Regions from separate parts of the Homo sapiens genome. Here region 2 is linked to region 1. Evidence: fine-mapped expression QTL. A gene starts in region 1. The other region holds a variant in brackets. All regions are shown on one strand. Distances are between the middles of the regions. Region 1 holds the start of PRRG3 (proline rich and Gla domain 3). Region 2 overlaps GABRE (gamma-aminobutyric acid type A receptor subunit epsilon).

Evidence for each region. PIP is the estimated chance that this variant, and not a neighbour inherited with it, causes the effect.
Region 2: its variant is the best candidate, but not a certain one, in a credible set for the expression of PRRG3 in kidney cortex (GTEx, PIP 0.77).

What each region holds. Positions count from the first base shown.
Region 1 is chrX:151,693,368-151,697,884 of GRCh38, forward strand. It overlaps PRRG3 (proline rich and Gla domain 3), which reads left to right and starts at 2,091. Exons shown (of 4, transcript NM_001372163.1): 1 at 2,091-2,177.
Region 2 is chrX:151,964,171-151,968,170 of GRCh38, forward strand. All of the region lies in intron 3 of GABRE (gamma-aminobutyric acid type A receptor subunit epsilon), which reads right to left. Among named protein-coding and RNA genes, the nearest start is that of MIR452, 6.5 kb to the left of the region's middle. The variant C/A (reference allele first, on the strand shown) is at 2,201.

The DNA.
Region 1 (4,517 bases):
GAGGCACTGCTATTCCTCCTCCCCCACCTTGCTATCCACCGAGGCCCCCATGTTCATAGTCTCTGCAGATAGTCCTGAGAGTGGAATGGCGGACTGGGGTGCAGGAAGGATCCTGCAAGACCTCACAGTAGAGATGTCATGCGCACTGTGTGGGAAGAATGAATGCAAGTGCTCCAGGTCCACAGTGGGAGGAAAGGCATTCTGGGCAGTGGGAAGTAGAAGTAGCCTCATGTGGCTGGAGCCAGAAGCTAAAGTGGGAGTGCCAGAAGGAGGGCAGAAGCCATAGACCCTTGTGCACATACTGGAAGAGCTGCTTTTTTAACAGTCAAGTGCACAAGGGTCTATGCGGTGTTAAGATCACGATGGGAACATGCTGGTGGGCTAGGAAACTCAAGAGGTTAGTTCCAGAAGAGTCTGTGGAATTCTGCCCCACAGGCTCCGGAGGCATGGGGGGAAGGCCATAGAAGAGCTGTCGTGGGTAAGGAAGATTCCTGCAGCCGTGAAATAGCAAGCAAGCTAGGGAAGAACTCTAACAGGAGGCAGAAATGGAAGGGAAAGCACCATGCGGGGAGAGAAGTGTAGAGGCAGGCATCGGGGGAGCTAGGGGAGCCAGGCCCTGGGGGTTGGAGGGGAGGCGGCCGGTGGCAATGAAGGCCTTCGCCCACCCCTCTTCCGCCCCCTGGCAAGGCAGGTTGCTAATACCCGCCCTGGGATAGGGGTGGGAGTGGTTCTGGAACCGCCTTCTGAGACTCATTCCCATCAAAAGCAACACTTGGGGTGGAGGGAGGAAGAGGACGCCAACCCCAGTGCCTGGCCGGGTTCTAGATGTGCAGAGAACAAAAAGGAACCCTAAAAACCCAGCATCCCCTTCTCCGAGGGAGGCTTTCCTAGACCCAGAACCTCAGCCCACCCGGAACCCCTTTGCCCCTCTCTTAGCAGTGGACCTGTCATGTGGTTCCTCCTGGACTAGTGTAATCTCTGCTATGCGTCTTGTCCTGCCATGCTGAACTTCTCACAGTGCGGCCTCCGAAGGAGCCCCCATCTAGCGCTCCTTGCAGTCGCAGAAGATTCCTTCTCCCCTTACTGAGCCTTAGAGTTTTCCAAACCCATTTCCTCCTTCAAATCGCTGCAGCCTCGCGAGGGAGGCAGAATTCTCCCCATTTCTCGGACTTTGCAGGAGAGAAGCCTGCCTTCCCGGGGCAGGGTGGGGGTAGGTAAGTGAAGAAGCCAAGGTCACCCAGTCATTGGCGGAACGCGGCCTCGACTCGGTCCTTCTTCTGAGGGCCCTGTGGATCCCTGGCAAGGCAGGCCTAGGTTGCAGGCTAGCCCCCCTCTCTTTTCGTTGGCCCCAGGAGCCCGGCGGGCCTGAATGGCAGGTGAGCCCGGGGGGTGGGGACAGGACGCGGGTTGGGCTGCGCAGGGACGCCTGGCGCGCGGGCCTTGGGAGCGGCCGCCGGAGCTCCCTGCTACGCCGTATCTTCCGAGGGCCCACGCCTTGGGTCACGACTGGACCAGGGCTTTGACCAAGGGTCCTCTGTGTGCCCCAGGCCCGCCAGTCAGGCCCCGCCCCCCGGCGGCACGGGCGGGGGCAGGGGCGGCGCCGGCAGAGTGGGGCGCGGGCGCGCGGTGCTCGGTGCGCGCCGCCGCCCCTCCGGCCCGGCTTGCCCGCCCGCTCTCCCAACCCCCTCGGCCCACTCCGTCGCCCCCACCCCTCCTTCCTCCACTCGGCCAGGCGGCCGGCGGCCCGGTGCGCGGGGCAGCGCGACGATTGCGGCCTGGCGATCGGGGCACTGCGGTCGTGGCGCGCGAGGCGCGGGGCGCGAGGCCAGCCCTGGAACGGCGGGGTGTGGGGGGCGGGCAGCTGCGGAGCCCCCAGAGGAAAGCAGGGGCAGGCAGGGGGGTGCCGAGGTAATGGGCCGGGCCTGGGCGCCCGGCTGCGAGGGGCGGGGGTTCCAGGCGCACTTCGGCCCTGGAGGGGCGGGCGACAGGGTGCCCGGGGCGGTGGGAGGGCAGCGGGGAGGGGAGGAAGGGAGGGAGGAGACGGCTGGGCCGGACCGGGGGGCTTGGCCGACGGGGAGCAGGTGGGCGGGGACAGGGCCCCTGCTGGAAGAGGCGCAGCAGCGAGGTGGCGGGCTGCGTGCGCAAACAGGGCGGCCGCCTTCTGGGCCCGGAGAACGGTGAGGCCATTTGGGTTGGGTGTCCCAGTCCCGAGGGCACGGTTCGGTATCCAGGGCCAACGAGCTGGGTGCAGGGCATTGTTGAGGAGGGAAGATCTAGAGGCCTGTCCGGGCCAAGGGGATGGGGCGTATTGAACAGCTCCGGGAGAAGAGTGTTGCTGGGTCAGGGCGCTGGTGTCCAGCGAAGGTGGGCGAGGACAGGCACTTTCAGGGCTGGCCTGAGTGGAAAGGGACAAGGGGGCCCCAGAGTTTGAGTTTGAGCATAATTTGGGAGTTGTCGTGTCACTGGGTGGGTCGATGAGTCATGCGATTTGGAGAACCCTTTCCTGGCGATCAGTTCTGAGGGATGGAAATAAAGTCTAGGGTTTGGAGAAGTGGTTTGGAGGCCATGTCTTGGGACACCAGGTGCTCTGGTGGTCACCAGGCTTCATGTGAGGGACTTTGGGAGTTGTGTCCCAGAGGCCTGAGATTCAGAAGCTTCAGTCTGGGGTGGAGTTAAGCAAGGTCTTTGTGGTGGCCAGTTCCCTGCCTTCCTTCCTTTCCAGGCTGTCAGGATTCAGCTGTGTTCCTGCGGGGAGTGGGTTAAAAATTCCTTCCGCCTACAGTCAGCTTTACAGTATCCACCAGGGGCATGGGGGACATATACATGTGTGGCTGCAGCATCATTCTTTGTCGTGGAGCCCTCACGATTGCTTCCTTATTGTTGCCATAGTAACTGTCTACTGATGGTGTATTTATAGGGGAAGAAGCAGGCGCTACATTTTGGGGAGGGAGGGGGAAGAGGCCTCGTGGCAGGCAGCAGCAGCAGTGAAGGTGGCTACAGAATTGCTAATGGAGTGGGCCATGCCATGGGAACTGTTTTGGGGGTGTTCCTGGCTCGACTGAAGCTTAAAAATGAACTGGTGACTTTAGCAGGTGCGTCAGGATAACATGTATTCGGGTCTATGATAGGTGTGACATATAGCCACCTTTGACCAAGGCTAGGTGTGTGGGGGACAAAAGATGGATATATGTAATCTATTATGTAAATTTTTCTCCATTTTTTTAAAAAACCACTGCAGTTTCCTTTGATAAGCATATTTTTCTCTCTTCCCTTATTAAGACTATATGCATTCTTCTCAAACCCAGATACAACAGCTCCATTTTTCTTCAAGCAAAAAATCCTTGCCATGAGGCATACTATATCCACACCCTCACCACATAAAGCTCAGGTATCCATAATGCAAGCAGAATTTTGAGATCATATTCCATCTTGGTTCTGACAAACATTGAGGGCCAACTGTCTCACAAGGCAGGCCATCTGTTGACAAATTCACATGTTGATAGTTTTGAGGGAGATTGTTGCAGGGTTCAAAAGAGAAAGCCCCTTGATGTGGCGTTTCCACAAATAGATGTCAGATCTGCTGTTTTACCTTTAATTTTCTTTTCTTTCTTTTCTCTCTTTCTCTCTTTCTTTCTCTCTTTCTTTCTTTCTTCCTTCCTTCCTCCCTCCCCTTCCCTTCTCCTTCTTTCCTTCCTCCTTCCCTTCCCTTCTCCTTCCTTCCTTCCTTCCTCCCTCCCTCCCTTCCTTCCTCCCTCCCTCCCTCTCTCCCTCCCTCTCTCCCTCTCTCCCTCTCTTTCTCTCTTTCTCTCTTTCTTTCTTTCTGGCTTTGTAACCCAGGCTGGAGTGCAGTGGCGCAATCTCAGCTCACTTCAATCTCCGCCTCTCTGGTTCAAGCGATTCCCCTGTCTCAGCCTCCAGAGTAGCTGGGACTACAGGCATGCACCGCAGCATGCCTAACTAATTTTTGTATTTGTAGTAGAGATGGGGTTTCACCATTTTTTGGTCAAGCCAGTCCCAAACTCCTGACCTGAGGTGATCCGCCCGCCTCAGCCTCCCAAAGTGTTGGGATTATAGGCATGAGCCACCGCGACCAGCCTAAATTATTGATTTATATCCTACCTGTTTGCCAAAAGGATTAGGTGGCATATTATAAATGCACAATAGGACACTGGAAACATAAATAGAAAGCTGTATACCACATCGCAGGACAGAAGCATATGTGCTTAACAGCTGGGCTTCCAGGGTGCCTGTGCTTGACTGGCAATAGTGACGCTGAACTTCCTGGCAGCCTAGGCAAAAAGGAGGGCTCAATGGATTCCACAGTTCACGTGTCTTGCATCCAGTTAGTCATCAAACCAGAGCTTCTGCTTGGGGAGGGGAGCAGTGGGGTGATTGCTCCCAGATGTGGACAGCTCAGCAAGGGCTCTAGAATGTGTGTATGAGTGGGCGTGTGTATTGTGGGGAGGGACAGAGGGAGCAGTGTGCTGTGACCATGGTTTAAGTACTGGCTGGATAGC
Region 2 (4,000 bases), 270 kb after region 1:
TGTTCTTGTGACCTTGGCTAAAACTCGTATCTTTCTCTGTTATCCTCTTTGTTAAATGGGAGACTATAAATAATTTGTAAGTGCCCTCCTCCTCAAAACAACTGCCCTGTTTCCAGAGCTGACATTGACACCCTCCCTTTACCAGTGGGCAAAGGTTCCATGCTATTCTGTGATGGGCTTATCAAGTAGATGGACCCTTTGGAATCCACTTAGGTTTGTACAGAGGAAGGTGGCATGAGTTTGGCTGTAGGAGTTTTCTATTTCCAGGTGTTCCAAAATAAAATATAATTCCCAACTAGATCACAGTCTCAGAGGATACATTTCATCTAGAAACAGACAGGCGATGGTGGCTTAATTCCATGGGCTGGGCTCTTCATCTTATTGCTCCTGTGTAGGCTGTGATGCTACTCCAGCCAGGTCAACACCCTCTCAGTCCCCACATTTCCATAGTAAATCAAAGATCCCAGCTCAAAATTGTTTTAAAAATTTACAAGCACACACACCATTGATTGCATACAGTGGAGTTTCCCCTTTCAGCTTTTATTTGGGGAGCACCAGTGTTAATTAACCCCAATCCTTCATTCTCCAGAATTATAATAAAAATGAAGTGTTTTGGAGGCCAGGCGCCATGACTCAAGCATGTAGTCCCGGCACTTTGGGAGGCACATGTTTAAGGTTTGTGTGTCACCACAACTATCCAGTTGTTTTTATGCTTCCTTAAAACCTTCTGGGAGGTTTTACAGCCTTCTGGGAGGGCGGATCACGAAGTCAGGAGTTGAAGACCAGCCTGGCCAACGTGGTGAAACCCCATCTCTACTAAAAATACAAAAATTAGCCATGCATGGTGGCAGGCATCTGTAATCCCAGCTACTCAGGAGGCTGAGGCAGGAGAATGGCTCGAACACGGGAGGCGGAGGTTGACGTGAGCAAAGATCGTGCCACTCCACTCCAGCCTGGGTGATGGAGCGAGACTCCATCTCAGGGGAGCTGGGGGGGAAAGGAGTGTTTTGAGTCACAAGAGAAACCTCTATTTAGTCTCATGTTTTTTAAACAAGGAGAATCTTTTTTTATTTTGCTTATTTTGTTTTTCCTTTCAAATAAGCACCTGTAACCTCTGAATGTGTGTGTTCGTGTGCATAGATATATCCGTGATTATTTGGTCTCCAGATATTGTCTGTCCCATAAAATGTCTGTTAAACATCAACAATGATATTGAATAGGAAGAAGCTAGAAATGTGCACCACTGGTGGTGAAGGGAGAAAAAAACCCTACTGCAATAGAACTCCAAGCAGCTCGAACAGCAAGTACCACAAGCAGGCCAAGGCAGAACTCTGAGTTATTTTAGAGATAAGGAAACTAAGGCTTTATGAGAAAGGGGGCTATCCAAAGTCACACAAATAGTCAATGGCAGCCTGGCCCTGGGATGGCTTTCACTTGCACCAACAATCTCTTTAGGTACCAAGGTCCAATTTTCTCTGCAGAATCCCTAGGTCTTTCCGCTGACTTCTTGTGCATCAAACAATGAATACCCACAACCATGGAGGCGGGCACAGCCCTCGGGGAAGAAATCAAGAAAATCCCTGATTGCCTTTGCTGGCCAGGACAAAAGATTGTAAAAGCAGCCACCAAACTGCTGGGGGCCAGCCATGGAAGGGAAGACTGAGAATGTTCCCTGGAGTAGGCCAGAGAAGCAGACAGAAAAGAGCTGGCAGAGCCTGGCTCCCATTTGAATGAGAGCCTCTGACCCCGACCTGCCCCACCTGCCTCCACAAATGTCTTCCAAGTGTTTCTACTGTCCCAAGTGGCTGGCAGTCTAAACTTGGCCAGCAGAGCCTCCTTCATTCCCAGGCCTCGTGAACTGCTTGGTAGCCAGTGGGAAGCCTTGCCCTCTGCACTCACACTGTGTTTATGCTCTATGTTATGAAGTGTTTCAAATAAGCATTTAATTTCTATTCGACAACTGTAAGTTCATTACATATCAACCGATAACTAACAGTTCACTTTTTCCCCAGTTTGACAAAGGAGCTTGCGATGTACATCCCTTTTAGCTCAGCCGAAACTCTAGAAATTCAGTGTTTTGGAACTAGAATCAACTGCGATAATTACCACAGCAAGAAAAAGCGTTAGCAACTATCGATGCTATGATGGGCAGCGATTCCCAGATTGTTCATTGCCTTTTAATCTCAGACTGGGTGTTACA[C/A]AACTGTGCACTCAGGTTTCCTTCCCGGAGGACAAGGCCTGCTTTCTAAACAACATCTGACTGAAAGGTGTTGAAACTCCCCTCAAGCAACTACACCAACTATGTACCCAATGCTGGGACTCACATTTCTGAGAAGTCTCAGCTTCCTCAAATGTAAAACAGGGATCCATATCCTAACGGCAGCTTTGGCTTCCATGCAGGCTGTCATGAGGATCCAAGGAGACAAGAATGTACTGGGTACTGGTATGTTCTGTGACTATGTGGCAGAGACGTGTGTCCCCTCCTTACCAAGTACACCACAGAACAGGGACCTCCCACAGCTTTAAAGAACTATTTGGAACCATGTAGAAGGCAAGGCATTTCAGGAAAATTTAACACCACATGTGAGGGTTTGGAATTTTCAAAAGACACTTGGCTCAGGCTAAAGTGCCACCTTACTGGCCAAAGAAAATAAAGTTGCTGTCTCTTTTCTGAACCAGTCCTGTGTTCCATGCTAGGTTTGGTGACTGCTGGGTTATTAGACTATATCCTTCAAGCATTGTCAGGTGAGGCCACTGCTGGCAGCATGAATAGCCATGGAGCAAGGAGAGACAGCGCATTCAGCTACTGTGAGTGGGGCTACTGCTCTGCTACAAGGGCTCTTGTAGATAGAAATTGGCTTCCCAAACAGCAAGGAGATTTTAGTCACAAATTCTCCACTACTCTTCAGTTTTACAGGATGCTCTGTCTCACCCAGAAAGCAAACCGAAGCATCTTGGCGCCCCCTGCTCCATTTGTCAGTGTGTGGTTCTCTCCACTCCACCTAAGGAAATTTAGCCACCACCAAATGGGTGGAGATTGACATGCTAGAAAAGAAGGGGCAAACCAGCTTGTGGAAATTAGACCGGTTACTTCCAAATCAGGTTGGCAGTGCCTTAGTCAGCCAAAGGAGCAGAGAACTAGAAGAAAGGAACAAATAAATAGCTATGCAAATTTCTGGGAGCCATGAGGTTACTGTGGACTGAGCACTACATTTGGCTTTTGGCATGCTGAAGAGGATAGGCAGAGACTGCTGTAGGAGGCTCTCTGCCCAGCTAGAATAGCATCGTGAGCCACTTTCCCCACTCCTACACCAATGACCTGAAAGGGTCAACAGTGACAACAATGGTGGGACCACAAGCCCTCAACCTCTGGTTCTTGCACAGAACTTAGTGCTTCTTAGTTTATAAACAATGCTAGCAAAATTAATTGCTAAATTCATACCCATTTTTAAAAGGTAAATTGCAAGACTAAAAGGAGACTACAATTCTCATAGTGGTAAACGCACTGGTAGCAGCAAAAAGTAAATCTGATTATCAAGGGAAGAGTCAAGAAAACCCCACCAATTTTAAAATGTAGACAGAAACTCAAAAACATCTATCTGCTCTCATGCTTCTGTTCTTGTTAGTTCTCAGCAACTCAATTCTAGGAGTTGCTCTAACAGAAGAACATCATGACCATGTGTAGCCGGCAGACTCTTGAGATGTCCTCCAGTGCTCTTCACTTCCTGGTGTTTGTGCCCTTCTGTAATCCCTTGACAGGGATTACACTTGACTTGGGATGGACCTCATGATTTGCATCTGATGAGGAGAATACCACAGAAGCAATGGGATGTCACTCCTAAAATTAGATTATAAAAAGTCCGTGATTTCCATCTTGAGCACCTTCTCTCATACTCTTCCTCACTCTGAAAGAAGCCAGCTACCATATTGTGAGCTACCCTGTGGATAGGTGCACATGGCAAGGATGGAGGGAGACCTCCAGACCACAGCCAGAGAGGAC